Linked DNA regions of Homo sapiens: all the other regions are linked to region 1. The links come from fine-mapping of genetic effects on gene expression. A gene starts in region 1. Each other region holds a variant in brackets. All regions are shown on one strand. Distances are between the middles of the regions. Region 1 holds the start of CELSR1 (cadherin EGF LAG seven-pass G-type receptor 1). Region 2 overlaps CELSR1 (cadherin EGF LAG seven-pass G-type receptor 1). Region 3 overlaps CELSR1 (cadherin EGF LAG seven-pass G-type receptor 1). Region 4 overlaps CELSR1 (cadherin EGF LAG seven-pass G-type receptor 1). Region 5 overlaps CELSR1 (cadherin EGF LAG seven-pass G-type receptor 1). Region 6 overlaps CELSR1 (cadherin EGF LAG seven-pass G-type receptor 1). Region 7 overlaps CELSR1 (cadherin EGF LAG seven-pass G-type receptor 1).

What was found. PIP is the estimated chance that this variant, and not a neighbour inherited with it, causes the effect.
Region 2: its variant is fine-mapped to the expression of CELSR1 in whole blood (TOPMed, PIP above 0.99).
Region 3: its variant is fine-mapped to the expression of CELSR1 in whole blood (TOPMed, PIP above 0.99).
Region 4: its variant is fine-mapped to the expression of CELSR1 in whole blood (TOPMed, PIP above 0.99).
Region 5: its variant is fine-mapped to the expression of CELSR1 in testis (GTEx, PIP above 0.99). The same link has a PIP of 0.9 or more in atrial appendage, spleen, sun-exposed skin and unexposed skin.
Region 6: its variant is fine-mapped to the expression of CELSR1 in whole blood (TOPMed, PIP above 0.99).
Region 7: its variant is fine-mapped to the expression of CELSR1 in tibial nerve (GTEx, PIP above 0.99).

The regions. Positions count from the first base shown.
Region 1 is chr22:46,535,073-46,539,480 of GRCh38, reverse strand. It overlaps CELSR1 (cadherin EGF LAG seven-pass G-type receptor 1), which reads left to right and starts at 1,861. Exons shown (of 35, transcript NM_001378328.1): 1 at 1,861-4,408. The coding sequence starts at 2,311.
Region 2 is chr22:46,481,560-46,485,967 of GRCh38, reverse strand. All of the region lies in intron 1 of CELSR1 (cadherin EGF LAG seven-pass G-type receptor 1), which reads left to right. It also overlaps the pseudogene FAM136EP. Among named protein-coding and RNA genes, the nearest start is that of CELSR1, 54 kb to the left of the region's middle. The variant G/A (reference allele first, on the strand shown) is at 2,588.
Region 3 is chr22:46,431,092-46,435,499 of GRCh38, reverse strand. CELSR1 (cadherin EGF LAG seven-pass G-type receptor 1) reads left to right here. Exons shown (of 35, transcript NM_001378328.1): 5 at 2,019-2,107. Among named protein-coding and RNA genes, the nearest start is that of TRMU, 98 kb to the right of the region's middle. RefSeq lists enhancers at 2,192-2,311, 2,882-2,931. The variant C/T (reference allele first, on the strand shown) is at 2,020.
Region 4 is chr22:46,419,198-46,423,605 of GRCh38, reverse strand. All of the region lies in intron 5 of CELSR1 (cadherin EGF LAG seven-pass G-type receptor 1), which reads left to right. Among named protein-coding and RNA genes, the nearest start is that of TRMU, 86 kb to the right of the region's middle. RefSeq lists a silencer at 2,283-2,332. The variant T/C (reference allele first, on the strand shown) is at 2,130.
Region 5 is chr22:46,396,012-46,400,419 of GRCh38, reverse strand. It overlaps CELSR1 (cadherin EGF LAG seven-pass G-type receptor 1), which reads left to right. Exons shown (of 35, transcript NM_001378328.1): 10 at 518-703; 11 at 1,783-1,896; 12 at 2,572-2,746; 13 at 3,674-3,815. Among named protein-coding and RNA genes, the nearest start is that of TRMU, 63 kb to the right of the region's middle. The variant A/G (reference allele first, on the strand shown) is at 1,842.
Region 6 is chr22:46,363,175-46,367,582 of GRCh38, reverse strand. It overlaps CELSR1 (cadherin EGF LAG seven-pass G-type receptor 1), which reads left to right. Exons shown (of 35, transcript NM_001378328.1): 29 at 465-590; 30 at 1,103-1,197; 31 at 1,894-1,997; 32 at 2,203-2,352; 33 at 2,847-3,071; 34 at 3,332-3,587; 35 at 4,336-4,408. The coding sequence ends at 4,360. Among named protein-coding and RNA genes, the nearest start is that of TRMU, 30 kb to the right of the region's middle. The variant C/A (reference allele first, on the strand shown) is at 2,345.
Region 7 is chr22:46,515,003-46,519,410 of GRCh38, reverse strand. The region is part of intron 1 of CELSR1 (cadherin EGF LAG seven-pass G-type receptor 1); the gene reads left to right. Among named protein-coding and RNA genes, the nearest start is that of CELSR1, 20 kb to the left of the region's middle. RefSeq lists enhancers at 1,510-2,275, 4,224-4,408. The variant G/A (reference allele first, on the strand shown) is at 1,830.

The DNA.
Region 1 (4,408 bases):
ACCTGAACCCACTGGCTGCAGCTGAGTTTTGTTTATTTAAACCCAACCCACTCTGCTTAAAGCCTTATTGCAAAACAGGCACTCCTGGGGTTCTCTGGTTTTTCCTCCTGCCTGGGTCCCCTTCAGGTCCGCCCAGTAGCCTTCCACTGGGAGGCTCCGGGCTCAGGGACCCGCCCTGCCTTCCGGCCCCAGAACTCCTGTCCTTTCATCCTTCCCGGAAAAATCCCAGTGGAAGGGTATATGGCGGGTGGGGAGGTCCTGGACCGCTCACATTAAGGAGACGGACTTTTCTCCTTCCTCCCCTCCCTCCACACACACATTTCCCAACAGGACTCTCCAGTGGAAACCTCGAATTAAAAGGTTCCAAAGCAACTCCACCTTTTAGATCAATATAACGTGTTCAAATCCTTGCTACTGGGAAGAAAATGCTCACATTGGGCTTCAGCACAAAGACACTGTTTCAGCAGCTTTGAGCGAAGTTGGCTGAGTATGCGTGTGACACACACACAGACACATCGCTCCGGGGGAGAAACCCTTCCGGTTCTCCACAGCCGCCCACGGTCCTCGTTGAGACTGGACTCATCTCAGCTCAGCTCAGAGATTTGGCTGCAGGATCCGACCCTCCCTTGCCAAAAAGACCCGTTCTAGGGGTGACTGCGCATTACTCCCACCCCCACCGCTCCGACCGGCCCCAGGAGAAGCCCTTCTAGGAGAGAAGAGGCGACCCCCACCTACCGTCCCCGACCACTGGGAGGCCTAAGGGCTGCACTGGACTCCGGCGCCCCGAGCGCCACCAAGGGAGTGCGCGCCCTTCCCAGCCGCTGGTGGCACAGTCCCAAAGCCCCGCCCATGCGGGGGGTCGCCAAGTCCTAAGCCTCCACCCCCTTTATCCCTGTGCCCCATCCGGAGGCAGGTGTACCCGTCACGCAAACCTAAAGCTGCCCCCGGCCCCCCGTGGTTCCCCGCAGGAGGCGGGGGTGTGTGTCACTTTTCTGAAAGCTCTAAGGTCTCTGCCCCCCGCCCCCCGCTGTCCTCCGTAGGAGGCTGGGCAGGGGCTGTGGCACAGCTCTAAATCCCTGCGGGTGCTTGCTTGCCCCAGGCAGCTTCCAGGACCCGCAGCCCCCCGCCTTCCCCGCAACCCGCTTCGGGAGGAGCCGGACGCTCGGGGATTCCGCGATGCGTCCGCGAACGCTCGGGTCGGGCCGCACGCGGGAGATGAGCGCGCCTCCGCCGTCCTCTCCAAATCCCTTATGTCAACCGGGGTTTTCTTCTTTCATTTAAAAGTTGCGCTTTAAACCAAGTGGGACGCAGATCCGGTAGCTGCCTATTGGGCTTCAAAGTCCAGGGAGTTTTAGTCGGGGTGAAGCATTTTAGCCTCCGTGCGTCTTGCTGTAAAATGGGTAACCCTCCTCGACAGCCTCCGCAGTCCTTAATGGGTGGGGGGGGGCTCCCCGGCCTCTCGGCCCCAGTCCTCCGCCCCCGGGTCCTACCCGCGCGGCACTCCTGGCGGCGGTCTCCGTGGATCTGTTCTGCCGGGGTGGGGAGCCAGGCTCTGAGCCGCGGCCCCGAGCCCGAGGTGCGGAGCCACCGCCCCACGGGTAGCGGCCACCGGGGGCCCCAGCCCCACCTTTCCCGGCCCTGTTGCCTCGGCCCCGCCCCACCGGGAGGCTGGGTGGGGAGGCCTCCGGGGAGTAGGGCCCCAGTCCCCGTCCCGGCCGCGCCCTCGCGTCTCCATAGCGATCCTCTCGGCGCGCACCTCCGAGCCGGCTCCCCCCGGGGCCGAACAATACGCCGCTGGGCCGGGGGCGGGGCGGGGCCGGGCCGGGGGCGGGGAGAGCGCGGGCGGAGTGGGCGCGGGCCAAGCGCACCGCCCAGGCAGCAGCCGGCCGCCGGGGTCTGCGCGGCGCGGAGCTGCCCAGCCCGCTCCGGGAACTCAGCCCCCGCCCCGCGCCGGGCCCGCCCCGCTTCCCACGCCCGTCCGGCCGAGCCCGCGCCGGAGCCACCTGGAGCCGCCTGGAGCCGCCGCCGCCGCCGCAGGTTGATGCGCGGCGCCCTCCCGGGACGCGCGGAGGAGCCATCTTGAAACCAACTTCGCAAACTTTCGCAAAGTGCTCTCGAAGTGGAAGCTGCGGGGGAGGCCGGGCGCGTGGTCCCCACAGTCCCCGCCAGGGCCCCCGGGGAGGCGGGACGCGGACCGCCCCGAGGGCCGGGCGCCCGGGAGCCGCTCCCCGGCCTCGCCGGGTGGATGCGGAGGCGCGCCGGGTGCATGGATTGTGTTCGGGCGCCCGGCTCGGGCTCGGGCTCCGGGCCATGGCGCCGCCGCCGCCGCCCGTGCTGCCCGTGCTGCTGCTCCTGGCCGCCGCCGCCGCCCTGCCGGCGATGGGGCTGCGAGCGGCCGCCTGGGAGCCGCGCGTACCCGGCGGGACCCGCGCCTTCGCCCTCCGGCCCGGCTGTACCTACGCGGTGGGCGCCGCTTGCACGCCCCGGGCGCCGCGGGAGCTGCTGGACGTGGGCCGCGATGGGCGGCTGGCAGGACGTCGGCGCGTCTCGGGCGCGGGGCGCCCGCTGCCGCTGCAAGTCCGCTTGGTGGCCCGCAGTGCCCCGACGGCGCTGAGCCGCCGCCTGCGGGCGCGCACGCACCTTCCCGGCTGCGGAGCCCGTGCCCGGCTCTGCGGAACCGGTGCCCGGCTCTGCGGGGCGCTCTGCTTCCCCGTCCCCGGCGGCTGCGCGGCCGCGCAGCATTCGGCGCTCGCAGCTCCGACCACCTTACCCGCCTGCCGCTGCCCGCCGCGCCCCAGGCCCCGCTGTCCCGGCCGTCCCATCTGCCTGCCGCCGGGCGGCTCGGTCCGCCTGCGTCTGCTGTGCGCCCTGCGGCGCGCGGCTGGCGCCGTCCGGGTGGGACTGGCGCTGGAGGCCGCCACCGCGGGGACGCCCTCCGCGTCGCCATCCCCATCGCCGCCCCTGCCGCCGAACTTGCCCGAAGCCCGGGCGGGGCCGGCGCGACGGGCCCGGCGGGGCACGAGCGGCAGAGGGAGCCTGAAGTTTCCGATGCCCAACTACCAGGTGGCGTTGTTTGAGAACGAACCGGCGGGCACCCTCATCCTCCAGCTGCACGCGCACTACACCATCGAGGGCGAGGAGGAGCGCGTGAGCTATTACATGGAGGGGCTGTTCGACGAGCGCTCCCGGGGCTACTTCCGAATCGACTCTGCCACGGGCGCCGTGAGCACGGACAGCGTACTGGACCGCGAGACCAAGGAGACGCACGTCCTCAGGGTGAAAGCCGTGGACTACAGTACGCCGCCGCGCTCGGCCACCACCTACATCACTGTCTTGGTCAAAGACACCAACGACCACAGCCCGGTCTTCGAGCAGTCGGAGTACCGCGAGCGCGTGCGGGAGAACCTGGAGGTGGGCTACGAGGTGCTGACCATCCGCGCCAGCGACCGCGACTCGCCCATCAACGCCAACTTGCGTTACCGCGTGTTGGGGGGCGCGTGGGACGTCTTCCAGCTCAACGAGAGCTCTGGCGTGGTGAGCACACGGGCGGTGCTGGACCGGGAGGAGGCGGCCGAGTACCAGCTCCTGGTGGAGGCCAACGACCAGGGGCGCAATCCGGGCCCGCTCAGTGCCACGGCCACCGTGTACATCGAGGTGGAGGACGAGAACGACAACTACCCCCAGTTCAGCGAGCAGAACTACGTGGTCCAGGTGCCCGAGGACGTGGGGCTCAACACGGCTGTGCTGCGAGTGCAGGCCACGGACCGGGACCAGGGCCAGAACGCGGCCATTCACTACAGCATCCTCAGCGGGAACGTGGCCGGCCAGTTCTACCTGCACTCGCTGAGCGGGATCCTGGATGTGATCAACCCCTTGGATTTCGAGGATGTCCAGAAATACTCGCTGAGCATTAAGGCCCAGGATGGGGGCCGGCCCCCGCTCATCAATTCTTCAGGGGTGGTGTCTGTGCAGGTGCTGGATGTCAACGACAACGAGCCTATCTTTGTGAGCAGCCCCTTCCAGGCCACGGTGCTGGAGAATGTGCCCCTGGGCTACCCCGTGGTGCACATTCAGGCGGTGGACGCGGACTCTGGAGAGAACGCCCGGCTGCACTATCGCCTGGTGGACACGGCCTCCACCTTTCTGGGGGGCGGCAGCGCTGGGCCTAAGAATCCTGCCCCCACCCCTGACTTCCCCTTCCAGATCCACAACAGCTCCGGTTGGATCACAGTGTGTGCCGAGCTGGACCGCGAGGAGGTGGAGCACTACAGCTTCGGGGTGGAGGCGGTGGACCACGGCTCGCCCCCCATGAGCTCCTCCACCAGCGTGTCCATCACGGTGCTGGACGTGAATGACAACGACCCGGTGTTCACGCAGCCCACCTACGAGCTTCGTCTGAATGAGGATG
Region 2 (4,408 bases), 54 kb after region 1:
AGACTCAGTCTCAAAAAAAAAAAAAAAAAAAAAAAAAAGTACCTGAAAGGTTAGAGCATATTAAGAGCAGATTAGTTTGGGCCACGACACATATCACTGTCATAGACAAACGACACAAGCAGGACATGCTGAACAAAACGGGTTCACGTTTGCAGAACAGGGTTCTGTTTCTCCCTCTGCGGGGTCTGATGGCTCCAGTGCGCCCATTTCCCCAGACTGTGGGAGGCACTGTGCAGAACCTGAGCGTCAACGGTCCCCGCCACACAAACCCCATGGGCGCAGACAGCACAGGTGTGGATGGAGAGGTGCATGGAGCCTGCTGGCCGCCTGTCTTGGAGATGAGCTTTTGCTCCTCGGCAATTTGGAGATGCTCAGCCAGCCAGATTTTATTTTCAGCTTTACTTGTGACGTTCACTTCTCTCCCGGATCCTCCATAATGAGCCAGACAGAAGCTGCCTGGCGGCCCCGCATGCAGCCTCCCAGGCACATGGGCCTCCTCCCGTCCAAACGGAGCTTTGAGTCTTTGCTTGAATCTTCTTACTCACTGGTTTCAAAATAGGCATCCAGCTCATTAGCCTCAGGGAGAGGGAGTTGGGGGCGCCACTCACAAAGGCCTGGGAAGAGGAACCCGAGCCAAGGTCAGGATGGAGGGCTTGTCTTCCAGCAGAACCCAATGTGAGGTGAGAGTTTTTGTTCTAGTCTTTGAATACTGGAAACGAATCTCACCATCTGGAGGTGGCAGGGGAGAGAGGCCTGAAAGAAATAAATTAAAATACTCAACTACAGAAAAACCTCGAAGCTGCAATCAAGACAAAAGCAAGGATGCTAACACACACACTTTCTCTGTTGGCTAAAACTGAGTGTTTTCACGGGGAGGCCTGCGTCATCTTTCTCTCAGGTTTCTTCCACGAGAGCCTCTAGTTAATCATCTCAAATGACCCTTCTAATGTCATGCTGAATCAGTCTCTTGAAATTTAGGACTGGAATTTTCTCAGCAAATATTTAACTAGAAAAACGAAATCTCAGCTTTTCTGTTCTCAGCAGTTTCAATGCAAGTTGCAAATTAATAGACGTCTGGGCCAATATTTGATCTTTTCCCCCAAAGAAAATGATTTGCTCGCCATTCACTAAATTGGAGGGAGGCGTCCCTGGAAGTAACAAGGATGATATCCTTGTTCCTGGAGGTGGGCTTCGGTAGTGTTTGGAGACCTCAGGCAGCAGCCGGACCTCCCCAGCACCTGGGCGGGGTCCCTGTGAGCGCTCACTCCAGCATCTCTGATGGCCACAGGGTCTCTGGGGCAGAACCCCCATGCCCAGCCAAAACAGGTGCTGCAGTGAGTGGGCCAGGTAGCTCTCGTGGTATGTGAGCGCAGCTGCCCCTTGCCAGGCTGTCCCGGGCTGCCCCCAGCTCTAACTTGAGGCACTAACCCTATCAGGGGTCAGTGGCTTAATATAGCCTCTCCCTGGTATTTGCATTTCAAAAGAGGTCTCTGTGAAATTATTCTGGAAGGGATTTCAGGGCCCCTGAGTGGGGACACATTTCAGGCCTAGGAGGGGTGGCTCCTCCAAGTTCCTGGCAGATGCTGCAGCCTGCATTTCTGAGGAGGGCTGGGCCCGAGGCAGCTGCCACCATGGGCTGGGCTGGGCTGGTGGAAGGAGGGACTCTGTCCCCTGCAGGACCCTCCCAGCGGTCTTGCTTGGGACTGAGCAGCTGGGGCTGGTGGGCCCTGTGGATGCCAGGTTTACTGGTGCCCAGTTCAGACCTCGGACCCGTCCCCACCGTCGTAACGGCTCTCCCCAGCAGCTCCCCTTCTCTTGCCCTGTACCCTTGGATTTCTGGGCGGAAGGCCTGGGGCGCTCCTCCCTACAGGTGAGTCTGAGAGCCAGGGCAGAGCGTGGGAGCCCGTGGGAGCCTGGGAATGTTCTGTGCTCCGTGAAATTGACAGTTGTGCTCCTTTACCTGGAGGCAAGGGATGTGGCTTCTGAGCCTGTTGGTGCCAGTGCCTTTGTTGTTACACCTTTGCTCTTAAATAGGTACAAATTATTGGTATTAGAAAGCCTTGCAGCTCCATATCCTCATTAAGCCTCTGCAGTTAATAATTATTTTTCTCTCCTGAAAGTGTTGGTGTGAAAGAGCTGAGTAGACACGTGGAGACTGCAGGCCTCACTCTACCTTGGCAGGAAGATGGCGACCTGCATCCCCAACAGACAGCTGTGTGTCCTGGGCACAGTTCCTGAGCCTTTCTGGGCCCCACATCCCTTGTCACTGGGGTAGCAGAATCTGCTCTGCCTCCCTGGGTGGTTGGAGAGGCAATAGCAGATAATGGGAGCAAAGACTTACGTAGCTCTTGCAATCCTCAGGGGACTCCAGGAGGCAGGAAATCCAATCACCCGGTTTTACTGATGAGGAAACCAAAGCACATAGAGGTTAAGTGACTTGCCCAAGTTCACAGAGGAAGTGGGTGGCAGAGTGGGATTGTCAGGGAAAGCACCTTGAATGGAAAACCTGTGGGCTGCCACTGCACTCCAGCCTGGGTGACAGAGCGAGACGCTGTCTCAAAAAAAAAAAAAAAAAAAAAAAAGTCAG[G/A]AATAGCATGTTTCCATAAAGAGGGTGTGCTCAACTGTGAGGACTGCGCCCTAGACACCCAGTGAGGCGGGTCTCACAGTTTGTGGCTTATGTTAATTAATGTCTCATCATTAATTTATTAATAAGGTTCTTTCTAAAGTCCTTGTTTTTAATGTAATCAAAATCATACTTTTTCCCCTTTACGATAGTGTGTTGTGTGTCATGTTTAAGAATTGCTTACCTATCTCAAGATCATAAACATGATTTTGAATGATCCTTGCTAAAATAGGCTTTGTCTTTCCTGCTTAAGTCCTTAGTTCACCTGGAATTGATGTTTGTGCTTGGTGTGAGGTAGGGATCCAGTTTCACTTTGTCCGTTATGTAGACAGCTGAGTGGCTTGGGACCATGTGTGGGAATGCTCCTCTTTCCCATTTGCCAGCTCTGTTGTGTGTGCGTGTGGACCTGTTTCTGGGCTCCATCTTCTGTCCATCAGTCTGTTGGTCTGCTCCATGCCAGCACTCCCTTGTCTACAGGCTATAAATCTTGACATCAGATAGAGCTTGTTCCCCTCCCCTGTTCTCCAGGGATGCCTTGGCTATTCTTGACCTATTGGTCTTCTGTGGAGATTAGAGAATCATCTTGTGAGTTCCCTATGAAGGACCCTGTAGATAATTTTCTTTTTTTTTTGAGGCGGGATTTTGTTCTTTCACCCAGGCTGGAGTACAGTGCACAAGCTCAGCTCACTGCAACCTTTGCCTCCTGGGTTCAAGTGAGTCTCGTGCCTCAGCCTTTCGAGTAGCTGAGTTTACAGGCATATGCAATCCCACTCTGCCACCCACTTCCTCTGTGACCTTGGGCAAGTCACTTAACCTCTATGTGCTTTGGTTTCCTCATCAGTAAAACTGGGTGATTGGATTTTCTGCCTCCTAGAGTCCCCTGAGGATTGCAAGAGCTACACAGGTCTTTGCTCTCATTATCTGGTATTGCCTCTCCAGCTACCCAGGGAGGCAGAACAGATTCTGCTCTGGCTGATGGCCCTTCCTCTGTCTTCAGGGCCAGCAGCATAGAATCCCCTGACTTCCTCTGTCCCCATAAGCTCTTTCTCCCACTCTTCCTCCCTCCTCTGCTTTTAAGGATCCTGTGGCCACCCAGATCCTCCAGGATACTCTCGTGGGTTAAGGTTGCTGGTGAGCGGCCGTGCCCCTGTGCCATGTGGCATAACGCAGTCACAGCTTCTGGGGATTGAGACATGCAGCTCTTCTTGGGAAGTGAGGGTGAGACATTATTTTGTCTACCACACATGGCCATGGCCAAGATTTATAAAAGTCAGCCGGGTGCAGTAGCTCATGTCTGTGATCCCAGCACTTTGGGAGGCTGAGGCTGGTGGATCACCTGAGCTCAGGAGTTCGAGACCAGCCTGTCCAACATGGCGAAACCCCATCTCTACTAAAAATACAAAAATTAGCCAGGCTTGGTGGCACATGCCTGTAATCCCAGCTACTCGGGAGGCTGAGGCAGGAGAATCTCTTGAACCCGGGAGGCAGAGGTTGCAGTGAGCTGAGATCACGCCACTGCATGGGCAACAGAGTGAGACTCTGTTTCAAAAAAAAAAAAAAGATTTAGAAAAGTTCAAATAACTGGGGCAGCACAGGGTTGCCACTGGGGAGCTGCAGCAGCTGCGGGTGCAGGAGGTGGTGGACTCCATGGTGAAGAGTCTGGAGAGAGAGAACATCTGGAAGATGCATTGTCTCATGTTCTGGTGCAGCACCAGCTGTTGTGAGGACAGTCAGGCCTCCACGGAGCAGGTGCACCAGTGCATCGAGTGCCACCATGTGCCTCTG
Region 3 (4,408 bases), 100 kb after region 1:
GACCAGCCTGGCTAACATGGTGAAACCCCATCTCTACTGAAAATACAAAAATTAGCCAGGTATGGTGGCACTTGCCTGTAATCCCAGCCACTCAGGAGGCTGAGGCAGGAGAATTGCTTGAACCTGGGAGGTGGAGGTTGCAGTGAGCTGAGATCATGCCATTGCACTCCAGCCTGGGTGACAGAGTGAGACTCCATCTCAAAAAAAAAAAAAAAAAAAATTTTTTTTTTTTTTTTTTGGACAAGGCTGGCCAGGCAAGGTGGCTCATGCCTGTAATCCTAGCACTTTGAGAGGCCAAGGCGGGCAGATTGCTTGAGCTCAGAAGTTCAAGACCAGCCTGGGCAATATAGCGAGACTCTGTCTCTTTTAAAAAAAATATATCGACAAGGCCATTAAACATGTTATTCCAGTTGTTAGAAAAGAACATTTCTCCAGACTGCCAACAGGTATATCTGTGTTTTTCTGGCACACATGACTTTTTTTTTTGTTTTTGTTCTTCTTTTGAGACAAAGTCTTACTCTTTCACCCAGGCTGGAGTGCAGTGGTGCAATATTGGCTCACTGCGACCTCCACCTCCCAGGTTCAAGCGATTCTCATGCCTCAGCCTCTCCAGTAGCTGGGAATACAGGCACGTTTCACCATGCCCGGCTAATTTTTGTATTTTTAGTAGAGACAGGGTTTCACTGTGTTGGCCAGGCTGGTCTTGAACTCCTGACCTCAAGTGATCCGCCCACCTTGGCCTCCCAAAGTGCTGGGATTACAGATGTGAGCCACCAGGCTCAGCCTGGCACACTTGACTTTCAGGAGTGAATTCTGCCATCTCCTCCTTCACCTGGAAGTTCACCAAGATGGCTCAGAGCTGCTTCCGTCTCTAGAACCCTGGCCCGTGTTGAATGACATGTGTGTGATGGTGGAGGATGGAGCTTTGTTTTCTATACTCAATAAAGAAAGGGAGGCACCTGTAACAGCAGCCAACCACCATGGGAGAGGTGGCCATAGCCCTCCGGGCTCTGTGAGGTGGGATTAGGCTATTCCCCTGGCCAGTGTCTCCCACACCCGTTTCCAGAACTCCTGCTGGTTCCCTGGAGACGGTATTCTCTGCCCGGGACCTGGTACCCACCGCACCTGTCCTTTGGTGCCCCTGAAGCTCCTTCCTCCCAGCTGCTGCTGCTGACTCAGGGTTGTGCCCCAGAATCCCCAAAGGGACTCGCCCGCCCCACTCCAGCAGGAGCTCAAGGGGTGGAAATGACAGACACCCCAAAGCAGAGATGCACAAGAGACGCGTCCGCGACCTCACGATGGGACGTGTTACGTGGTTTAAGAGTTGTTAAAAGCCTGAGATGACATTTATTTGATTAAGTGACCTAAAGTGGAATTGGTTTTGATGATTTTGTCTACGTTGATGCAATGCATAGGAAAAAGGGTTCGACCTCTGGTGCGGTGTAGGTGTGACTGCTGCTGGTACAGACAGATGGGTTTTCCGTGTTTATATTTTTTCATATTTAGAAAAGGAACAAGGCCAGGCGCGGTGGCTCACGCCCGTTATCCCAGCAGTTTGGGAGGCCAAGGCAGGCAGATCACGAGGTCAGGAGTTCGAGACTAGACTAGCCAACATGGTGAAACCCCATCTCTACTAAAAATACAAAAATTAGCCGGGTGTGGTGGTGGGTGCCTGTAATCCCAGCTACTCAGGAGGCTGAGGCAGGAGAATCTCTTGAACCCAGGAGGCGGAGGTGGCAGTGAGCTGAGATCACGCCACTGCACTCCAGCCTGGGCGACAGAGCAAGACTCCATCTCAAAACAAACAAAACCAGAAAAGAGGAACAAGAATTACTTTTGTAACCAGAAAAGAAAATGGATGGAGTGGTGGGCGCCTCCCACCATGGTGCCGTGGGGAGGGGAGGGAGGACGTGGCCATGTGCACCTGTCTCCCCCTGATGCCTCACAGCGCAATCCTCGGTCCCCAGTAGGCCCCGCCAACCCCTGTTTTCTCTCTGGGTCTCCCTCCCACCATGCAGG[C/T]GAGACAACAACGACCGTGGCACCGAAGGTTCCCAGTGGTGTGAGTGACGGGCGGTGGCACTCTGTGCAGGTGCAGTACTACAACAAGGTAAGATGGGCCCCACCACTTCCCCCTGGCCCCAGGGCGGCTCGAGAAGGTGCCCTGGGGCGAGGCGCAGTGGCTCACGCCTGTAATCCCAGCACTTTGAGAGGCCAAGGCAGGTGGATTACCTGAGGTCAGGAGCTCGAGACCAGCTTGGCCAACGTGGCGAAACCCTGTCTCTACCAAAAATACAAAAATTAAAAAATTAGCCGGGCGTGGTGGCGGGTGCCTGTAATCCCAGCTACTCAGGAGGCTGAGGCAGGAGAGTCACTTGAGCCTGGGAGGCAGAAGTTACAGTGAGCCGAGATCGTGCCACTGTATTCCAGCCTGGGTAACAGAGCGAAATTCCATCTAAAAAAAAAAGGAAGGAAAAAAGGTGCCCTGGTAGATTTTCTGTCTTGAGACATTTGTGCTCTGAATTTTTTTTTAAATGTGCTATTGGAAAAAATGGTTTAGGAAATGCACATTTGTGGAGGGTCTGTGTAAATACACCTGAGCCCTGTGCTGGGGTCATAGTCCCACCCAGAGCTCTGGGTCGGGGGGTACACAGGGACCCCGGAGATCTCCTGCGCTGGGGGAGGGACACAGAAAGGGCTTATTCATTTGCAGCCACCTTGGCCAGAGTCTACTAGTGGCTGAAATTCTGGGCTGTTCATACACGGCTCTGTAGCCAAAATCGTCCACTGTACCTGGATGTAACTGGCGAGCCAGAACACTCTTCAAGGAAGTGCCGTGAAGGCTGGGTGGTTTTGGTTTCACTTTATTTTGCTGTTCGTTGGCTTGTAAGGAAACACATTGTTTTTTGCATCAAAATGCTGTGCTTTCCACGGCTGTGATTTTGCAAATCCCTTTTCTCTTCTTGGGAAGCTCCAGGGTGTGCCCCCGCTTGCTCGTGGGTCTGCGTGGGTCTTACCGGCTCCTCCTGGAGCCTGGCCACCCCCGCTGTGCCCCGCTTCCCGGACTTCACAAGGCTGGGGCCTAAGCTTGGTTGGCAGACGAGGGCTCCTCTGTCCTCCAGGAGAATCGACCCAGTCCTTCTATGGAGAGAGCATCTTCCTTCTTTCACAGCCACTGTGCCTGGCTGCGACTCACCAGCAGTTGGGGTCCAGCCACTGGGCCTGAGGTCGTAGTGTCGCCTCCACTGGCTTTCACTCTCCTTTCCATGCTGGCCACCGGCGTCCCTCCACCTCCCTGGCCCGCCCCTCCCATCTGCCTTGAATATCCCATCATCTCCCAGGCGTGCCACACAGACTCCAAGTAGTGGTCACCTGCACAGAGACCATAGTTTTTGTCCTCTGTCCCATCAGTGCCAACCCAGGGCAGGTGGAGCTTGAGCCTCATTTGGGAGGAGGGCAGATGGGAGGTGCTGGTGAGGTTTGGGAGCTGAGTGCTTGCTCGGGGTTTGGGGGGATATTGAGAGAAGGCTGGCAGGTGTCTGGGCAGGGTCTGGGCTGCCGCACATTGGATGTCACCCCTAGTGGGGCTTGGCTGATGTTTGGAGAACCATGTGCTTGACAGAGGTGCAGGGGCTGGTGGGGTGAGGGGCTCAGGGCTGAGCAAGAGGAAGAGGGTAGCCCTCACAGACGCGGATTTATTTGCTGCCATTGTCCATTTCAAAGACCGAGTCTTTTCTTGATACGGTGCCGTCCTGTGGCTGTGTGGGGCAGTGCTAGCCAGTGTGAAGCGCGTTCACCTGGGTGAGCTGCACGGGTGGCCGTTGCGTCCTGCTGCCTGGCGCTGCCTACTCTGACCTGGTGACCCTTCCTGTTGTGCCCTTCCAGCCAGCTGGGGCTGGACACCAGAGCTCAATGCCCCCTGGGGTGGTGCCTCCCAAGGGCTGGGCCACAGGGGACCCTGGAGACGGTGCCCCATCGTCAGGGAAGCATAGGGCATAGGTGGCGCATTTTCCTTCCTGCACGTATCAGAAGACCAAGTCCAGAGATGAACGTTTGTTGCTGGGGAGGGGGTAGGCAGGGGGAGGTCGAGTCAGCCTTGGTCTCCCCATCAGTGCTCAACACTCCAGAATCATCATCTGCCTATGGCAGAAGCAACAGTGTGTCTGCAGTTGCAGAGGGACTCGCAGCCAGGACGCCACTGTGGCCACCTCTGTCCACACTCCGCCCTGGCTCTGAACACAGTGAGTGTTCACTGGGGCCCGCCTGTGGCCGCCCCTTTCCGGGAGCTCAGAGGAGCAAAGTCCCCGTGCAGGACGCCACCTGCACTGTCCCGGAGGAGAGGGGCCTCATGTAAGAAGATACACAGAGGACGGTGGATTACCGGGATCCATGGCTTCCGTGTCTAGGGCCG
Region 4 (4,408 bases), 120 kb after region 1:
GAGACGAAGTTTCGCTCCTGTTGCCCAGGCTGGAGTGTAAAGGCGCGATCTCGGCTCACCGCAACCTCTGCCTCCCAGGTTCAAGCAATTCTCCTGCCTCAGCCTCCCGAGTAGGTGGGATTACAGGCCTGCACCACCACGCCCGGCTAATTTTGTATTTTTAGTAGAGACGGGGTTTCTCCATGTTGAGGCTGGTCTTGAACTCCTGACCTCAGGTGATCTGCCCCCCTCGGCCTCCCAAAGTGCTGGGATTACAGGCGTGAGCCACCGCGCCTGGCCAGCATGGAGTCTTGATCAGATATTTATTATTCCTGGTGATGCAGTGGTTTGGCTGCTGGTTCTTCTGGTCTATGCGATTCAGCCAGGGCTGTGTGAAGGCCTCACTCATATGACCTGGCCGTTAGCCATGGCAGCTGGGGCCTCTCATCTTCCAGCAGGCCACCCTGGCCGTTCACTTGGTGGCAGGGGGTTCCTAGCAGCCAGAGAGGGCGAGTCCCAGTGCACGGTGCTTTCCAGGCCTTATCTCGTGTCCTTGTGCCCTGATGTCCTGTTGCCCAGGTCATGTGGCCAAGCCCAGCCTCTAGGTAGAGACATGGACCATTGGTGGCAAGAGCCAGGAGGTGGCATTGCAGAGGCCAGACGTACAGTGCAGGAGGCATCATCGTGGCCCTTATAGCAAAGGTGGATACCAATGGGAAGAAGAATGCAAAGTGAGGTGGATTTCGTGTTCCTTTTATGCCCTTCTGTGCCTTCTTACATGCACTTGAGTTCTTTGTATTTAAAAAAACAATATAGCAGTTATCTGGGTCATGGGACTATGAGCCATTTTTTTTTTTTTTGAGATGGAGTCTCGCTCTGTCGCCCAGGCTGGAGTGCAGTGGCGTGATCTCAGCTCACTGCAAGCTCCACCTCCTGGGTTCACACCATTCTCCTGCCTCAGTCTCCTGAGTAGCTGGGACTACAGGCGCCCACCACCATGCCCGGCTAATTTTTATTTATTTATTTATTTATTTTTTATTATTATTATTTTTTTTTAGTAGAGACGGGGTTTCACCGTGTTGGCCAGGATGGTCTCAGTCACCTGACCTCGTGATCCGCCCCCCCTTGGCCTCCCAAAGTGCTGCGATTACAGGTGTGAGCCACTGCGCCCGGCCCTGGTTTTTTCTTTTAAATATTCTGTTTAAAAAAATCATTTGAGGGCCAGGCACGGTGGCTCACGCCTGTAATCCTAGCACTTTGGGAGGCCGAGGCAGGCAGATCACTTGAAGTCAGGAGTTCAAAACCAGCCTGGCCAACCTGGCAAAACCCCATCTCTACTAAAAATACAAAAAAATTAGCCGGGCGTGGTGGCAGGTGCCCATAATCTCAGCTACTCGGGAGGCTGAGGCAGGAGAATCTCTTGAACCTGGGAGGTAGAGGTTGCAGTGAGCCAAGACCGTGCCACTGCACTCTAGCCTGGGCGACAGAGTGAGACTCTGTCTCAAAAATAAAACAAAAAAAATAAACAAAAAGATAATTGGATATACAGAATATGTAAGATAAAGAAGCTAAACTTTTACAAAGTTAATTAAGCCTTGCAAAGTATGTAAAATCCTTATGATAAAGGAGGTGGCCATGCAGGCTGGTAATTTTGCCCTCAGGGCCTTGTTGGCTTTGATTCTGTCTCATAGGAAGTTCCGTGTTTAAGAGGAGGGGATGGGGATGCTCCCCAGGTGTTCCGTGGCTGCGTGAAAGGTCACGCCCTTCGTGAGCTTCCCTGGCTTCTCCAGCCCCAGCAGGTGTTCTGTCAAATCCACTAGTGGGGCCTCTGCTAAGGCAGTCTGCACGTGCTCCCATCAGTTGGTGAAGTCGGCGGCCACTGCCTTTACTTACCCTGCATCTCGGACTCAGGATGTTCCTGCCTCCTTGAGCCCAAGTGATGGGGGCATAGAAGCCGATAGAGGGGTCTTCAGGTGGCTAGCGAGCTCTGCCAGAAAGGTGGTGCAGGGCCCTGCTTGCAGGCGCTGTGGCAGGTGGGGGCTGCCCCGATGCTGCTATGTGATGTGACAGATAAGTCACTTGGTTTCCGTTCCCAAACACAGGCCTGGTCAGGTGGTAGAAAGTCACCTGCTATGGAAACGTGGTGATTC[T/C]CGGAGGCAAGCGCCGCCCCACCCTGGGCCTTTGTGTTACAGAACCCTGTTATGGAAAGTCGCCCCAGGGCTGGAGCAGCCCTCAGTTTCACGCCCGGCTGAGGTTGCTTCCTGTCTGGCATCATAGCCACTGTCCTCCAGCAGCCTCTGTCTCACCCCCATCCTTCCCACCCCACCCAACCCCTCACTGCTGGGGCTCTGAGATGCACTGTGCCACGGCTGCCTCCCTCCCCTCTCTGGGCTCCTGGCCTTTCCCGCCTCTACCCCCCCAGCACCTCGGCAGGGAGGGTGGTGGTGGCTGAAGTGTACTGGCTGATGTCCTGTCTTGTGCCAGGCTCATGTGTGTCCCCCACGTGATCCTCATGTTAGCTCCTGGAGGAGGAGGTGCTGTTGCTGTTTCACAGATGAGGAAACTGAAGCACAGAGTAGATGATGGGAGGGCCGGGTTTAGGCGGAGCCATGGACCCAGCATCTCTCACCCACCCGTGTATCCGCTGCTCTGGGACGTGCCATCCGAGGGCTGTCGCGTTTTCCTGCCGTGACCATCCCCGGCCCCCACCTTCTCCCTGTCTTATCCAGGCGCTTCCATGCTCTGTCCCCCAATTCAGCCCTCTCCCCACCTTCACCTTATCACACAGATACTGAGCATGTCACCCCTTAGTGGGATGCAGGCCAGGAGGGAGGGAGGCTGGTCAGAAAGGTCATCAGGGCAAGAAGAGGCAGGGGGACTAAGGAAGGGGGTCCCGCGGGCCCAGATCGAGGACAGAGAGGGGACTATTAGGTCTTTACAGGAGCAGGCCATGACTTTGTATGAGCATGTGTTAGTGTGCAAGACTGTGTGCAAGGTGAGTGTGTACAGGTGAGTATATTGTGCAAGCATGAGCACGAGTATGGGTGAGCATGTGTGCACACAAGTGTGTGCTAGTATATCTGTGTGTGCACATGCAAGTATGAATGATGTGAGTGGGTGTGTCCACGTGTGCACACGTGTGAGTGCATACGTGAGTGGGTGAGTGCACCTGGGTGAGTATGCATGTGTGTGGGTGTGTGCACGTGTGTGAAGAAGCACACGTGTAAATGTGTGGGTGAGTGCACATTTGAGTGGGTGAGCATGCACATGTGGGTAAATGTGCACATGAGTGCACGAGTGGGTGAGTGCATACGTGAGTGCACATGAGTGGCTGAGTGTGCATATATGAGTGCACGTGTGTGGGCGAGTGCATTTGAGTGTGGGTGAGCATATGTGGGTGTGAATGTGGGTATGTACGAGTGTGGGTAGGTGTGCACATGTGAGTATGAATGAGTGCACGTGTGGGTGAGGGCACATTTGAGTGGGTGAGTGTATATGTGAGTGTGAATGTGGATGAGTATGCACGAGTGTGGGTAGGTGTGCACATGTGAGTATGAGCGCACGTGTGGGTGAGTGCACATTTGAGTGTGAGTGTCGGTAAGTGCACGTGGGTTTTGAGTATGCACATGATTGTGGGTGAGTGTACATAAGGGTGAGTGCACGTGTGCGTGGGTGAGTGTGCATGAGTTTGGGTAAGTGTACGTGTGAGCGTATGAATAAATGCACATGAATGTGAGAAGGCACGTGTGGGAGTGCACATGTGGGTGTGAATGCGGGTATGCACGTGAGCGTGGGTAAATGTGCACGAGTATGAGTGCATGTGCATGGGTGAGGGCGCATTTGAGTGTGAGTGGTGAGTGTGCACGTGTGGGTTTGAGTATGCACGAGTGTGGGTGAGTGTACACACGTGAGTGTGAGTGGGCGAGTGTACACATTTTTGGTAAGCTTTTTTGCTTGCTCAGAAAAGTCATTTTCGAGGGAACTGTAGCCCACCTGCCATCCTTCCTGAAGTTTTCTCCTGTTTTTCCCGGGACACTCAGGCTACTGTGTTGTGGGGGCTGAGCTCAGAGGCCCCATCCCAGGCACTCTGTCCCGGTGCCCGTGTGGAGGAGGCAGGCCCCGGGAGGCTGCAGCTCGGAAGTGTGCGTTCCTCCTTGTCCCGCTTGTCAGGATTTCTCTAGCTGGGAGTAGCATTAGGATTGAGATGCCTCCCACCCATAGAGGAACATGAGTGAGCTTCTTGTTGAGTGCTTGAGGAGGGTCCCTCAGGTTGTACCAAGCAACTTTTTGCCTATAAAATCCCCAAGAGAAGGAACGTGTTGCTTTCCAAGAAGGCGCTGTATCTCACTGCATTTTGGCCCTTCATTTGTCATTGGCAAGAAGACCCCCCTCTGAGCAAATCCCCATATAATTCCCAGGCTCCCAAAAC
Region 5 (4,408 bases), 140 kb after region 1:
GTGATCCGCCTGCTGTGGCCTCCCAACGTGCTGGGATTAAAGGCCTGAGCCACTGCTCCCAGCCAACTTTGCCTAACTTTTTTTTTTTCTCGAGACCAAGTCTCGCTCTGTCACCCAGGGTGGAGTGCAATGCTGCGATCTCAGCTCACTGCAACCTCCACCTCCCAGGTTCAAGCAGTTCTCCTGCCCCAGCCTCTGAGTAGCCAGGATTACAGGCACCTACCACCACACCTAGCTAATTTTTGTATTTTTAGTAAAGATGGGGTTTCACCATGTTGGCCAGGCTGGTCACGAACTTTTGACTTCAGGTGATCCACCCACCTCAGCCTCCCAAAATGCTGAGATTACAGGCCTGAGCCACCGCACCTGGCCAACTTTGCCTAATTTTTAAGCCTATCTTGTATCTGGTGCCACATAATCAGTCTCCTTTCACAGCTTCCTTGTTTAAGTGACTGCAAAATGTTTTCTCTTTCATTGTCATTGTACCAATCAGTCGGTGTGGCTCTCCCTGCTCCAGATCCTGAACAACTACCTCCAGTTTGAGGTGTCCCACGGCCCCTCCGATGTGGAGTCCGTGATGCTGTCCGGGTTGCGGGTGACCGACGGGGAGTGGCACCACCTGCTGATCGAGCTGAAGAATGTTAAGGAGGACAGTGAGATGAAGCACCTGGTCACCATGACCTTGGACTATGGGATGGACCAGGTGAGCTGGCACCTGCACCTCCTCTGGGGATAGACCCTTCCTCCGGCCCAGGGAAAAACAGAATGACCCCTTGACGTGCCAGGACCCACCAGAGACCTTGTGGATTTGGGGAGGCACTTTCTGGGTCCCCGCAGGTGGGCTTCTGTTCTGCCCTGTACTGAGGTCACTGGCATCTTCCTCACCTCCTTCATCCGGATGCCCCGCCCCCGGCAGTCAGCAGCTGACTTCCTCCAGCTGCATTTCTCATCATGATGCTGTTGGTGCCTTCAGCAGTGGTTTCTTTTAGCAAAGCCATCTTGAGCAACACCTGCAGGCTCAGCACCATGTCTTTAGGGTACTGAAGTAGCAATGCTGGGGCCCGTGCCCTCAGAGCATGGATGGGGAGCAAAACTGGGAGAGCAGTGAGACCCAGGTCCTGGACAGGCCTGTGAGACACCAGGGAGCCACACATGTCCCAGGCAGGCAGGTGGTGGTATCCCAGACAATGTTCGGAACACTTAACCAAACTAGGTTTCCACAGTTTGCAGGCAGGTAACCCAAGATGTTGTCTGTGAAATGCCCACACACTTAAGGGGCGACCTGGGATCTCCAAGAGCTCTTGGAGCCAAGGCTCATCTTACAACACAGACCTGGGAGTAAATAGGTGTGTTCCAGGCACCTGCCTTTCTGGGACTGGATCTCAGCCGAGACCCTCTTGGGTTCCCACAGTGTTAATGAGTGAGCGGATTTCCGTTCACTGCAGTCTTCCTGACTCGCCAAGCTCTCTGTCACAGCGTGGCTGGTTTAGTGTTGTGCCCTTGACGGAGGCGGGACAGTTGCCCACGTTGACCCCACTGGCCGCCTCAGCTAGGCTGGGGCATGGACACCCATCCTCTGGCCTGGTCCCCTCGCCCTGGTCATCACAGCCAGCCTCGCTGTCCAGCTGGGCCCAGCTCTCTCTTTGGAGGCCCAGATGTCCTCAGGCTCTGCGGAGTTTGTTGAAGTGACTGTTTAGACTTCCAGTGTATCCTTCCCATCTGAGAGACGTTTCTAGGATGGTGGATGCAGCCCCCAGATCCCCGGCCCCTCTCTCCGCACAGAACAAGGCAGATATCGGGGGCATGCTTCCCGGGCTGACGGTAAGGAGCGTGGTGGTCGG[A/G]GGCGCCTCTGAAGACAAGGTCTCCGTGCGCCGTGGATTCCGAGGCTGCATGCAGGTGCGTGGGGGTTGTGGGGGGCGGGGGGAGGCCTGCCCCTCACAGGCAGCTCCGAGGCTGGCAGCACCATAGGTGGTTCCGTTGGTCAACCTGTTAGCTTTCAACGAGTGAAGAATTTGTCTGACAGGCATCCCCACTTTAACAGCTCCTGTTTCCTCTTCAGACCCATTCTCCCCTGCGGTTCCCCTTGGCATCCGGGCCGTCCCTGGCCCCCACAGCTCCCCACCGCCATGCCAGCCACCTGCCCCTCTGCCTTTGTGAAGTGTCCTGAATCGAGCCCCTTGCCGCCACCCCCACCCAGTCCAACCACAGACGTCACCCAAGTGGGCCCCGTGCCTGTCCCCTGGAGCCAGGGGTTCCAGCTACGGCCGAGGGAGCTGCTCTGAGTCGTTCAGCTCTCAGCCCCCTCGGCAGGGACATCCACTCCTCACGCCCCCACCGCGCACCCCAGGAGCTCAGGCTGGCGTGCCCTCTGAGCTCCTCACCCAGCCCTCCACTGCACTCCGGCCAGCAGGCCGTGGGGCAAGAGGAACAACCCTGCCCGCCCCAGCTCTGTAGATAAATGAGGCATCACAGATGAATGCCTCGCAAGGGACCAGAGAGGTCTCAGGGTTCCCTTAACCCCTACATACCTTTCCGGGCTCCTGTAGCCCCAGTGCCGTTTACTTAATGCAGGGAGTGAGGATGGGGGGGACGCCCACCAACGTCGCCACCCTGAACATGAACAACGCACTCAAGGTCAGGGTGAAGGACGGCTGTGATGTGGACGACCCCTGTACCTCGAGCCCCTGTCCCCCCAATAGCCGCTGCCACGACGCCTGGGAGGACTACAGCTGCGTCTGTGACAAAGGTGGGACCGCCCTCCCGGGGCCCTTCAGTGACAGGGAGGTCTCTTATGGCTGAAACACAGGAGGGGGGCTCAGTTTAGACATTAGCGTCCCCAGCCAACTCCCTGTGGTTCCGTGGAGCCCTGAGCTTTATTTTATAACAAGCGGGCCCCTCCTAGAGAGAGACTCTGAGCCTCTTCCTTACTCAAGGCACAGAGTGCCCCAGGCGCTCTCCTCAGCACATGGGGTGATCAGCAAAGAAACAGTGAAAAGTAAGGCCGGGTGCAGTGGCTCATACCTGTAATCCCAGCACTTTGGGAGGCCGAGGTGGGTGGATCACTTGAAGCCAGGAGTTCAAGACCAGCCAGGCAACATGGTGAAACCCCATCTCTACGAAAAAAAAAAAAAAAAAAAAAAAAGCAAAAATTAGCCAGGCATGGTGGCACGCATCTGTAGTCCTAGCTACGTGGGAGGCTGAGGTGGGAGGATCACTTGAGCTTCTTAGGCAAAGGTTCCAGTGAGCTGAGATCATGCCACTGCACCTCAGCCTGGGCAACAGAGCAAGACTCTTCTCAATAAATAAATAAATAAAAGAATTAGTGAAAAGTGCATATTAAGAAAATCCTCCATTCAGGGTGGCCTCAGAGTTTTGAGGTGCTTAAGTCATCTTCTGCTGGTGGCCATTCCCCATGTGTCCTGGGGCAGCCTGGGCCCCGTGTTCCAAGGCTCTCACCCTCCTTGGGGCAGCCCGGGAAGGCCTTCCTCTCTGCATCACTAAGTCTAACCCGCCTAACGCTGTGTTTTCGGGGACTCTGTGGCACTCTTCCTCTTCCCTCTGCTGAGTACCAGGGAAAGTCAGATCTTCTGGAGGGGACAGGTTGCTCCAGATATTTTAACGTGGAAGGTCTCGTGGATTGTGGGTGGAGGTAATGCTGGCTCTGTCCTTGCAGGGTACCTTGGAATAAACTGTGTGGATGCCTGTCACCTGAACCCCTGCGAGAACATGGGGGCCTGCGTGCGCTCCCCCGGCTCCCCGCAGGGCTACGTGTGCGAGTGTGGGCCCAGTCACTACGGGCCGTACTGTGAGAACAAGTAAGAGCAGCCCCTGGTGCCTCCCTGCACCTTCAGAGTCCATGTGGCTGTGTTCCCTCGACTCAGTGTCTTCTCTTTCTTATTTTGACCCAAAGATATGTGTGATTCTGGGTAACAGGGACATATTTTTTTTTAATTTGGCATGAATTAAGTGAAAATCAAATTTTTTTTAATTTTTATTTTATTTTTATTTTTTTGAGACAGAGTCTTGCTCTGTCACCCAGGCTGGAGTGCAATGGCGCGATCTTGGCTCCTTGCAACCTCTGCCTCCTGGGCTCAAGTGATTCTCCTGCCTCGGCCTCCCGAGTAGCTGGTCCTACAGGTGCCCGCCACCATGCCCAGCTAATATTTTGTATTTTTAGTAGAAATGGAGTTTCACCATATTGGTCAGGCTGGTCTCGAACTCCTGACCTCAAGTGATCCACCTGCCTCAGCCTCCCAAAGTGCTGGGATTACGGGTGTGAGCCACCACGCTTGGGCAATGAGAATCAATTTGGACGTCTCAAACTAACCCCATTGGATCATGTGTCCACACCTGAAACATGCAAATGACTCACCTGGAGTCCTCACTGGGCCCAGAGCAAACAGGCCCC
Region 6 (4,408 bases), 170 kb after region 1:
TCCCTTGTGCAGCCGGCACGGGGGCTGGTGCCTCCTCCCCACTGTGTCTGGGGACGATGACCCTAGTGCCAGGCCAGCACAAGTCCACTTGTGTCTCCAGGGAACAGAAGTGGCCATTTCTAGTCATACCAAGGGCCACACAGCAAGTGGACTTACGACACAGTGGGGACCCCAGAGGGGCCCCAAGGACTGTGGAAGGAGTGCCCAGAAGACTGGCCTGAGCCGGGGCCCTCACTGCCTCCAGCACACCGGGGGTCTGGCCCAGGCATCTCAGTTTCTGAGCTCCCCCACCTGGCCTCCAGATAGCAGCAGTCCCTGAGGAGGGGAGGCCTGGCCGTGTCCTGGGCCGTGTGGCCGGACATGTTGTGTGCACTCAAGGCTGTATGCGCATCTGTGCTGGGGCGCCTAAGGGCAGGTGCCTAGGGAGGCAGCAGCAGGTGCTGACCCCACCTTCCTCCCTCCAGGGCCCCTTCGTCCTCCTTTTCCACTGCGTGCTCAACCAGGAGGTCCGGAAGCACCTGAAGGGCGTGCTCGGCGGGAGGAAGCTGCACCTGGAGGACTCCGCCACCACCAGGGCCACCCTGCTGACGGTAGGAGGCGCCGGGGACACCGCGGGACTGGGGGCTGGGCGGCATCTCGAGGGGCGGGGGAGGGTGATCGAGCCTCAGCCCCAGTCCTGCGGCCCGTATGCCCCTCACGGTGGGGATGGCAGAGCCGCCCGCGGTGCACGGTGTGGCTGCCGCGTCAGAACCAGAAAGTGACAGAATCGGCCAGATGGGGCCTGGGTCGCATCCTAACCCTGCTCTTCCAGGCCTTAGAAAGAGAGGGTCAGGACCACCGAGGATCCTGACCAGAAGCAGTGGCCGTAGGGAGGGCGGCAGCCCCTGACCACAGCGCGGGCCAGGATGTGCTTCCCTCAGCTGCCAGGAGGCTCTCGTTTGCAGTGAGGGTTGACTGCTTGGGGCCAGCTCCTCCTGTGTGCCAGGCAGGGGCCCAGCCAGGGTGTGGGTGTGGGGGGCTTGCCGTGGGGACAGAGTCATTCCCCGTGGTGGTCATGTGGTGGCCACCACTTGGCAGTGACCAGCCCCTCCCCTCCCTTCAGCGCTCCCTCAACTGCAACACCACCTTCGGTGACGGGCCTGACATGCTGCGCACAGACTTGGGCGAGTCCACCGCCTCGCTGGACAGCATCGTCAGGTCAGGCCGCAGCTCCGGGTTCGGGGAGGTGGCTCTCGAACTCCCTCAGGTTTTGCCCCTGCCACCCCAACCTGTGTCCTGCCATTCAACCAACATCACCTTCCACCCCCAACTTTCCACCCGCACCTTCTTCCCACCCGCAACTTCCCTCCCTGCCCCGCACCTTCCCTCCCCGCCTCGCACCTTCCCTTCCCCTGCACCTTCCCCCAACAACCTTTCCCCCACCAACTTCCCCCAACCAACCTTTTCCCGTGCAACCTTCCCCCCCGCACCTTCCCCGCACTGCACCTTCCCCCCGCAGCCTTCCCCCCTCCACCTTCCCCCTCCACCTTTCCCCTGACAACCTTTCCCCCCAACCTTTCCCCCAGCACCTTCCCCCCAACCTTTCCCCCCACCACCTTCCCCCCCAGCCTTTCCCCCCACCACCTTTCCCCCACCCAGCCTTTCCCCCCACCACCTTCCCCCACCCAACCTTTCCCCCCACCACCTTCCCCCACCCAACCTTTCCACCCACCACCTTCCCCCCACCCAACCTTTCCCCCCACCACCTTTCCCCCACATACTCGGGAGGCTGTTTTGTCTGTGCTGTTGTTGGGAACACAGAAGGGGTAGGGGCAGAGAATCTTCCAGAGAACTTTCCAGCACCTCCTGTTCCCTGACGGATGATACTGAGCCCACCCTCCCTGGCCTCTCTAGGGATGAAGGGATCCAGAAGCTCGGCGTGTCCTCTGGGCTGGTGAGGGGCAGCCACGGAGAGCCAGACGCGTCCCTCATGCCCAGGAGCTGCAAGGATCCCCCTGGTATGGCTTCCCTGGAGGGGGAGGACCCCGTGGGTTGTTTTTCCCACGTCCCTTCGGTCACTGGACAGACTGCCCCTGAAGAAGCACTAGCAGCCTCGCCATGCTCAGCGTCAGCATGCCAGGGGCCCAGTGGCTCTGCTTGGCCCTCGGTGGGACTCCCTCACCTCCCAGGGCCTGAGCCTCCCTGTCCCCCGCGCATCCACAGGCCACGATTCCGACTCAGATAGCGAGCTGTCCCTGGATGAGCAGAGCAGCTCTTACGCCTCCTCACACTCGTCAGACAGCGAGGACGATGGGGTGGGAGCTGAGGAAAAATGGGACCCGGCCAGGGGCGCCGTCCACAGCAC[C/A]CCCAAAGGTGAGTGTGTGGGGCACATTGGGCCAGGCTGGGCTGTGGACAGCGGGCTCGGGGCAGGCCTTGGCTATGGCTGGGTCCCTTCCTCCCAGGATATGCCCAGCAGCACTGCAGCCACATGAAAGGACAGCCTGGGGTGGGGGGACTCTGGTTGGGCTCCCCCACAGCCTCTGGAGGGCTCCTCCAGGCCAACCCCCTGAGCGGAGGCAGGAACTCTCAGGGGGGTCTCTGTGGACTGTCACCGCAAGGTCCAGGTGAGGCTGCCAGTGGGGGATTAGCCTGTATAGTTACTGGTACAGATGCGGCGGGGGCTCCCAACAAGGGCCCTGCTGCCAGGACTCGCCCTCCTGGGCCTCAGTTTCCCCACCTTTAGGGTTCAGCCCTACCAGGCCTGCAGGTTGGGGAGAGGTGGGTCAGAGCCACCAGACCCATGGCTCTCAAGGGAGCAGCTCGAGTGGCAGTGCCGCTGCCTGCTGAGCACCGCTCTCGTGCCTCAGGGGACGCTGTGGCCAACCACGTTCCGGCCGGCTGGCCCGACCAGAGCCTGGCTGAGAGTGACAGTGAGGACCCCAGCGGCAAGCCCCGCCTGAAGGTGGAGACCAAGGTCAGCGTGGAGCTGCACCGCGAGGAGCAGGGCAGTCACCGTGGAGAGTACCCCCCGGACCAGGAGAGCGGGGGCGCAGCCAGGCTTGCTAGCAGCCAGCCCCCAGAGCAGAGGAAAGGTGCCTGGGGAGGCCGGGGCTGCAGTGAAAGGCTGGAGGACCCAGAAGGGCCAGTCCCTGGTCTGGAGGTGGGAGTGGGGCTGGGGCTGGTGGGGCAAGTCAGGGCCTGGGCAGAACAGACGTGGCCTCCTGGCCTAGCCCTGGGACCCGGGGAACCAGGAGGAAGGACAGGGGCTGAGGCTGGCTCAGCTGCACACGGCCCAGCAGCTGCCCCCGGCAGCATCACCCGGACTTGACCTTGCCGTGTCTCCTCCTCCCAGGCATCTTGAAAAATAAAGTCACCTACCCGCCGCCGCTGACGCTGACGGAGCAGACGCTGAAGGGCCGGCTCCGGGAGAAGCTGGCCGACTGTGAGCAGAGCCCCACATCCTCGCGCACGTCTTCCCTGGGCTCTGGCGGCCCCGACTGCGCCATCACAGTCAAGAGCCCTGGGAGGGAGCCGGGGCGTGACCACCTCAACGGGGTGGCCATGAATGTGCGCACTGGGAGCGCCCAGGCCGATGGCTCCGACTCTGAGTGAGTAGCCTGGGCCTCCAGGGCGGGGATCACCCACTTCCCCCTTGTCCTGAGTCAGGAGAGAGAGGGGGCAGTGGTCAGGGACCTGACACCCACCTCACCTGGAGCCCTGAGTGCAGAGGAAGCCCAGGCGGGGATGGGGGAGGGGGGAGGCGCTGCAGCTGAGGTCAGGAGGATACCCCGGAGATGGGCAGACCCCCTATCCTGGGGACACGTCTCAGGCCTCTGGGACTCTGAAGCCCTGGCCAGCCCCAAAATGCTAGGACCTAAGGTGCTGGGCTCTGCGTTTGATCAGCATTGTCTCCGCCTGGGACCACTGCCACCCACCTTGCAGTTGAGGATACTGAGGGTCCCGGAATGCCAGGGGTGAAGGGGGCGGGGTGGAGCTGGGGTCCTGGCCCCAGACCTCTCCCTGTCGCCCCTCCCTCCCTCCAAACTCACAAGGGAGAAGCCAGGTCTTCAGAATGCCCCTTCCAAAAGTCACTGTAGAGATGGCCGGTTTCTAACGTGGATTCCTTGCGCTCTTCTGAAAGACCAGCAACACAGAGGCCCACAGGCTGGTCCTGGTCCCCTCTCCTGCCTCCCAAGGGCAGCCTCATCCAACATGAGCTTGCCCTCCCTGGAGCCCCCAGACGCCCCCTCTACCCTGATGGGGTGATCCTGCCCCCCCGTGTGACAACCTTGGGCCCCACCAAGCCGCTACCCTCACTGACCCTTCACCTGCTTGCTGGCTTCTTCCCACGCGCAGAGGCAGTAATGAAACTTCAATTTGAACCATCAGTAATGAAACTTCAATTTGAACCATCAGGAAACCGTGAGGC
Region 7 (4,408 bases), 20 kb after region 1:
GCCTTGGGTCCAAAACCACCAGTACACACGCTGGTTCAAGTGTATTTGTATCAGCATTTGGATACACTGAAGCAATTTGGCTGGATCTTTGTCCTTGTTTGTTTCTACGGAGGTGGAATTCACAGAACGTGAAGTTAACCATTTTAATGTGAGCCATTTTGTGGTGTTTAGAACATCACAGTGGTGTGCAACACCCCCACCCTGTCCAGTTCCAAAGCATTTCCATTTCCCTCAAAGGAAAGCCTGTACCCTCTGGCAGCCCCAACCCGTGGGCTTTTGTGTCTGGCTTCTCCCCGGCCAGTGTCATGTTTTCCGGGTCGTGCACAGCGCAGCACGTGGCAGTATTTTCTTGTCTTTATGTTGGTGTTTTTTTTTTTTGATACAGAGTCTCGCTCCGTTACCCAGGCTGGAGTACAGTGGCTCAATCTTGGCTCATTGCAACCTTTGCCTCCTGGGTTTAAGCGATTCTCCTGCCTCTGCCTCCCGAGTAGCTGGGATTACAGGCATGCGCCACCACGTCCAGCTAATTTTTGTATTTTTAGTAGAGACGGGATTTCTCCAGGTTTGCCAGGCTGGTCTCGAACTCCTGACCTCAAGTGATCCACCCGCCTTGGCCTCCCAAAGTGCTGGATTACAGGCGAGCCACCGCGCCCAGCCACAACTGGAGTCTTTATAAGAGAGAAGACAGAGACAGACACACAATGAGGAGGCCACAACGTGAAGATGGAGGCAGAGACCGCAGCCACACTCGGATTACAGGCGTGGGCCACCGTGCCTGGCCCCATCTTAATTTATATCTTCATCTGCAGCCTTTATTTCCAAGTTAGGTCACATCCACAGGTACTGGGCATTGGGGCAGGGTAGTGAACCCACTGCCACGCCTGCCTTCATGTTTGTGTGTGTGACTGGTTTCTTCGTGTTAAATCAGATAACCGAGGCCTCCCTTCTCAGTGGGATCTGCAGTCTGTCCACCCGAATGCCCGAGCACACCATCGGTTTGCCTTGTCGCAGTGCAATGTGGTCTGTGGGAGCCCACTCCCTTCGTTCTCCTCTAACGAGACTGAGTGTGGCACGGGCTGAGCGCCCCTGCTGATGGTGCCCCCACAGGCTCTGACTCCTCAGTAAGGTCTGCTGTGATAGCAGCGTCTGTGCTGAGGGGCCGCGCTGTGCTTTGAGATGTCCTTTAGAAAGGGGATGCCGAGGCCAGGCGTGGTGGCTCACGCCTGCAATCACAGCACTTTGGGAGGTCGAGATGGATGGATCACATCACCTGAGGTCACGAGTTCGAGACCAGCCTGACCAACATGGAGAAACCCCATCTCTACTAAAAACACAAAAAAATTACCCGGGTGTGGTGGCACATGACTGTAATCCCAGCTACTTGGGAGGCTGAGGCAGGAGAATCACTTGAACGCAGGAGGCAGAGGTTGCAGTGAGCCAAAATCCTGCCATTGCACTCTGGCCTGGGCAACAAAAGTGAAACTCTGTCTCAAAAAAAAAAAAAAAGGAAGGGGACACCGTGGGAGGTGTGTAATAAACAGAATATGGGGACACAGGGTGGTGGGTGCTTTCAGATGACAGCTCACCCTCCCTTTCCCTCTGGGTCTCAATGCCAAGTGCCATAGCCATGGGAGTCGCCTCTTCAATGCAGCCCTCGCTTCTAAGCATGGAAAATTCTAACACATAATCGCAAGTTCTCCCAATTCTTCAAAGAGGAGAGAATGGAAAATATGAAGGTTTATTGTTCTGTGAGACTTCCTGTCTGTCCTGCATGTGGCCGTCAGAGGTCAGGGGTGCGTCTGTGTGTGCAGGACGGGAAGCTCAGGGGC[G/A]TGTTTTGCGGCGTGTCTGCAGGGGCACCTTACTGTGGACAGAGGTACCAAGACAAGAGCCGGCCTGGGGCGCCGGGACAGTGCACATCAGCCATTGTGGTTCTACCCTCCAGATACCGCCTTGTGCCCCGTGGAAGATGACAAGTGCCAGATGGAGTCTGTTTTGGGGGAAAACCAGGCCGGGATGACCCCGTAGGCAGGAAACCGGTGGCTTTGGTGTTGGACGGCCGTCCAAGTCTCCGGTTTGGCCCGGGAAACCCATTGCATTTGTGGCAGGAATTCTCTCTTCCCTCCTGTTTTTCCTGCGGGTCATCGGCCCAGCATTTTTTGCCAGAGCAAAGGTGGAGCAGTGGGAAAATGGGCCAAGCCCCTTCAGGGGCCAAACTTGCACCTGGCAGCTCCATGCTCTGCAGCTGGGAAAACTGAGGCAGTGGGGGATGGGGAGGTGGTTTGTATACCTCAGGGGAATGATCCATTGGGGTGAGAACCTGCCCTGGCCAGAGCCAGACCCTCTGGATTCTTCCCCCAGAGTCACCAGCCTCAGGAAGTGGATGAGCCCAGCTCATCCCTTATGGGTGATAAAGGTTCCTTTGCTTTAAAACACGAAAAGGGCATCCCATGGCTTTGCCAGCCGTGACACTGGTTTAGGTGGGATTCTGGGCATGGGTCAGTGGGGGTCAGCTGCAGTGGGAAACGGGGAGGGAGGGTGAGGGGACAGCCCTCGGCCGCCTGCCTTCCTGCCAGTCCCCACCCCGCAGCTTCCTGCCTGGCACAACATAGGGTGTTGCCTGTGTCCTGAGAGAGTCGTGTGCCTGGGTGAGAAGTGGAGGGAATGGACTTTGTGGTCCGTTGGGCCGGAGGAGCCACATAACATGAGCTGGTCGAGGAAATTACCTGGGAGGTGTCAAGGTGGCAGCAAATGAGCTTTGAAAAGTATGTCCTGGCCAGGTGTGGTGGCTCATGCTTCTAATCCCAAGCACTTTGGGAGGCGAGGCAGGAGGCTTGCTTGAGGCCAGGAGTTCAAGACCGGCCTGGGCAACATGGCGAGACCCTGTGTCTATAAAAAAAAATTTTAAAAAACCCCCCAAAACCGGTGTGCTATCCCTCCCCACTCCCCCAACCCCACAACAGGCCCCGGTGTGTGATGTTTCCCTTCCTGTGTCCAAGTGTTCTCATTGTTCAGTTCCCACCTATGAGTGAGAACATGCGGTGTTTGGTTTTTTGTCCTTGCGATAGTTTGCTGAGAATGATGGTTTCCAGCTTCATCCATGTCCTTACAAAGGACATGAACTCATCATTTTTTATGGCTGCATAGTATTCCATGGTGTATATGTGCCACATTTTCTTAATCCAGTCTATCATTGGTGGACATTTGGGTTGGTTCCAAGTCTTTGCTATTGTGAGTAGTGCCGCAATAAACATACGTGTGCATGTGTCTTTATAGCAGCATGATTTATAATCCTTTGGGTATATACCCAGTAATGGGATGGCTGGGTCAAATGGTATTTCTACTTCTAGATCCTTGAGGAATCGCCACACTGTCTTCCACAATGGTTCAACTAGTTTGCAGTCCCACCAACAGTGTAAAAGTGTTCCTGTTTCTCCACATTCTCTCCAGTACCTGTTGTTTCCTGACTTTTTAATGATCGCCATTGTAACTGGTGTGAGATGATATCTCATTGTGGTTTTGATTTGCATTTCTCTGAACTCATTCCTACTTTCTTAACCCCAGTCGACTGTGCTGTGGATGCTGGTCAGTGCTGGAGATCTGCAGGATGGGCGGAATGTCCTGGTGTATCCTCCTGCCGGGGCTGCCTTCCTACACTGGCTGCTGGGAGCCTGTTACACAGATAGGAGCCTGCCAGGCTGGGGAGGCCCCAGTGACTTAGTCATCCCCTGATCCCCCAGCAGGACTTACAAAGCCTCAGCCTCTGTGCCTTTGAGTCCCCAGCCCTGAGCACTGTGTGACTGAGGCCCGTCCTATTGGCTGTGTCCTCCACCTCCAGCCCCCGGGGTGCCCTGCAGCTTGTGCACACCCACTCTGCATCAGGCTCAGCCCTCCCAGAGCTGACTTCACCATGGAGACACAGACTGTCATGCTTTCCTATTTTCTGTCTAAGGCCTTCATAGAGTTTGTGTTTAAGGTGAGCCTCTTTCCCTTTACCCTGATGAAACATGTGCAAACCTTCCTACCTGGGGGTCATGTGACTTGGGAGCATCCACTCACAAGCTAGCCTTTGTGATACGCACTGAGACCGCTGGGCTGTGGTTCCAGCTGTGCTGCCGACAGCTGTGCAGCTCTCCCCAGGAGGGCCCAGGTGGGGGTCACTTGCCTGGCTGTGGGCTGGGAGTGGTGGGCAGGGCCATGAGGTCCCAGAGTGTGGCCAGAGGGCTGATGCACGGGTGGAATGGCTCCTACTGCCCATGCTGTGTCCCATGAGTGTCCCCGGGGGGGGTTGGCTCTGCTGGGACGCTGAGGGGGGTCCACGCTGCCAGACAGCCTTTTCTCAGCCCAGGCTGAAGCTGAGGGGGTGCTGGGGGTGCTTTCTAGAAGGGGCTGGCGAGGACTAGGCTGGTTG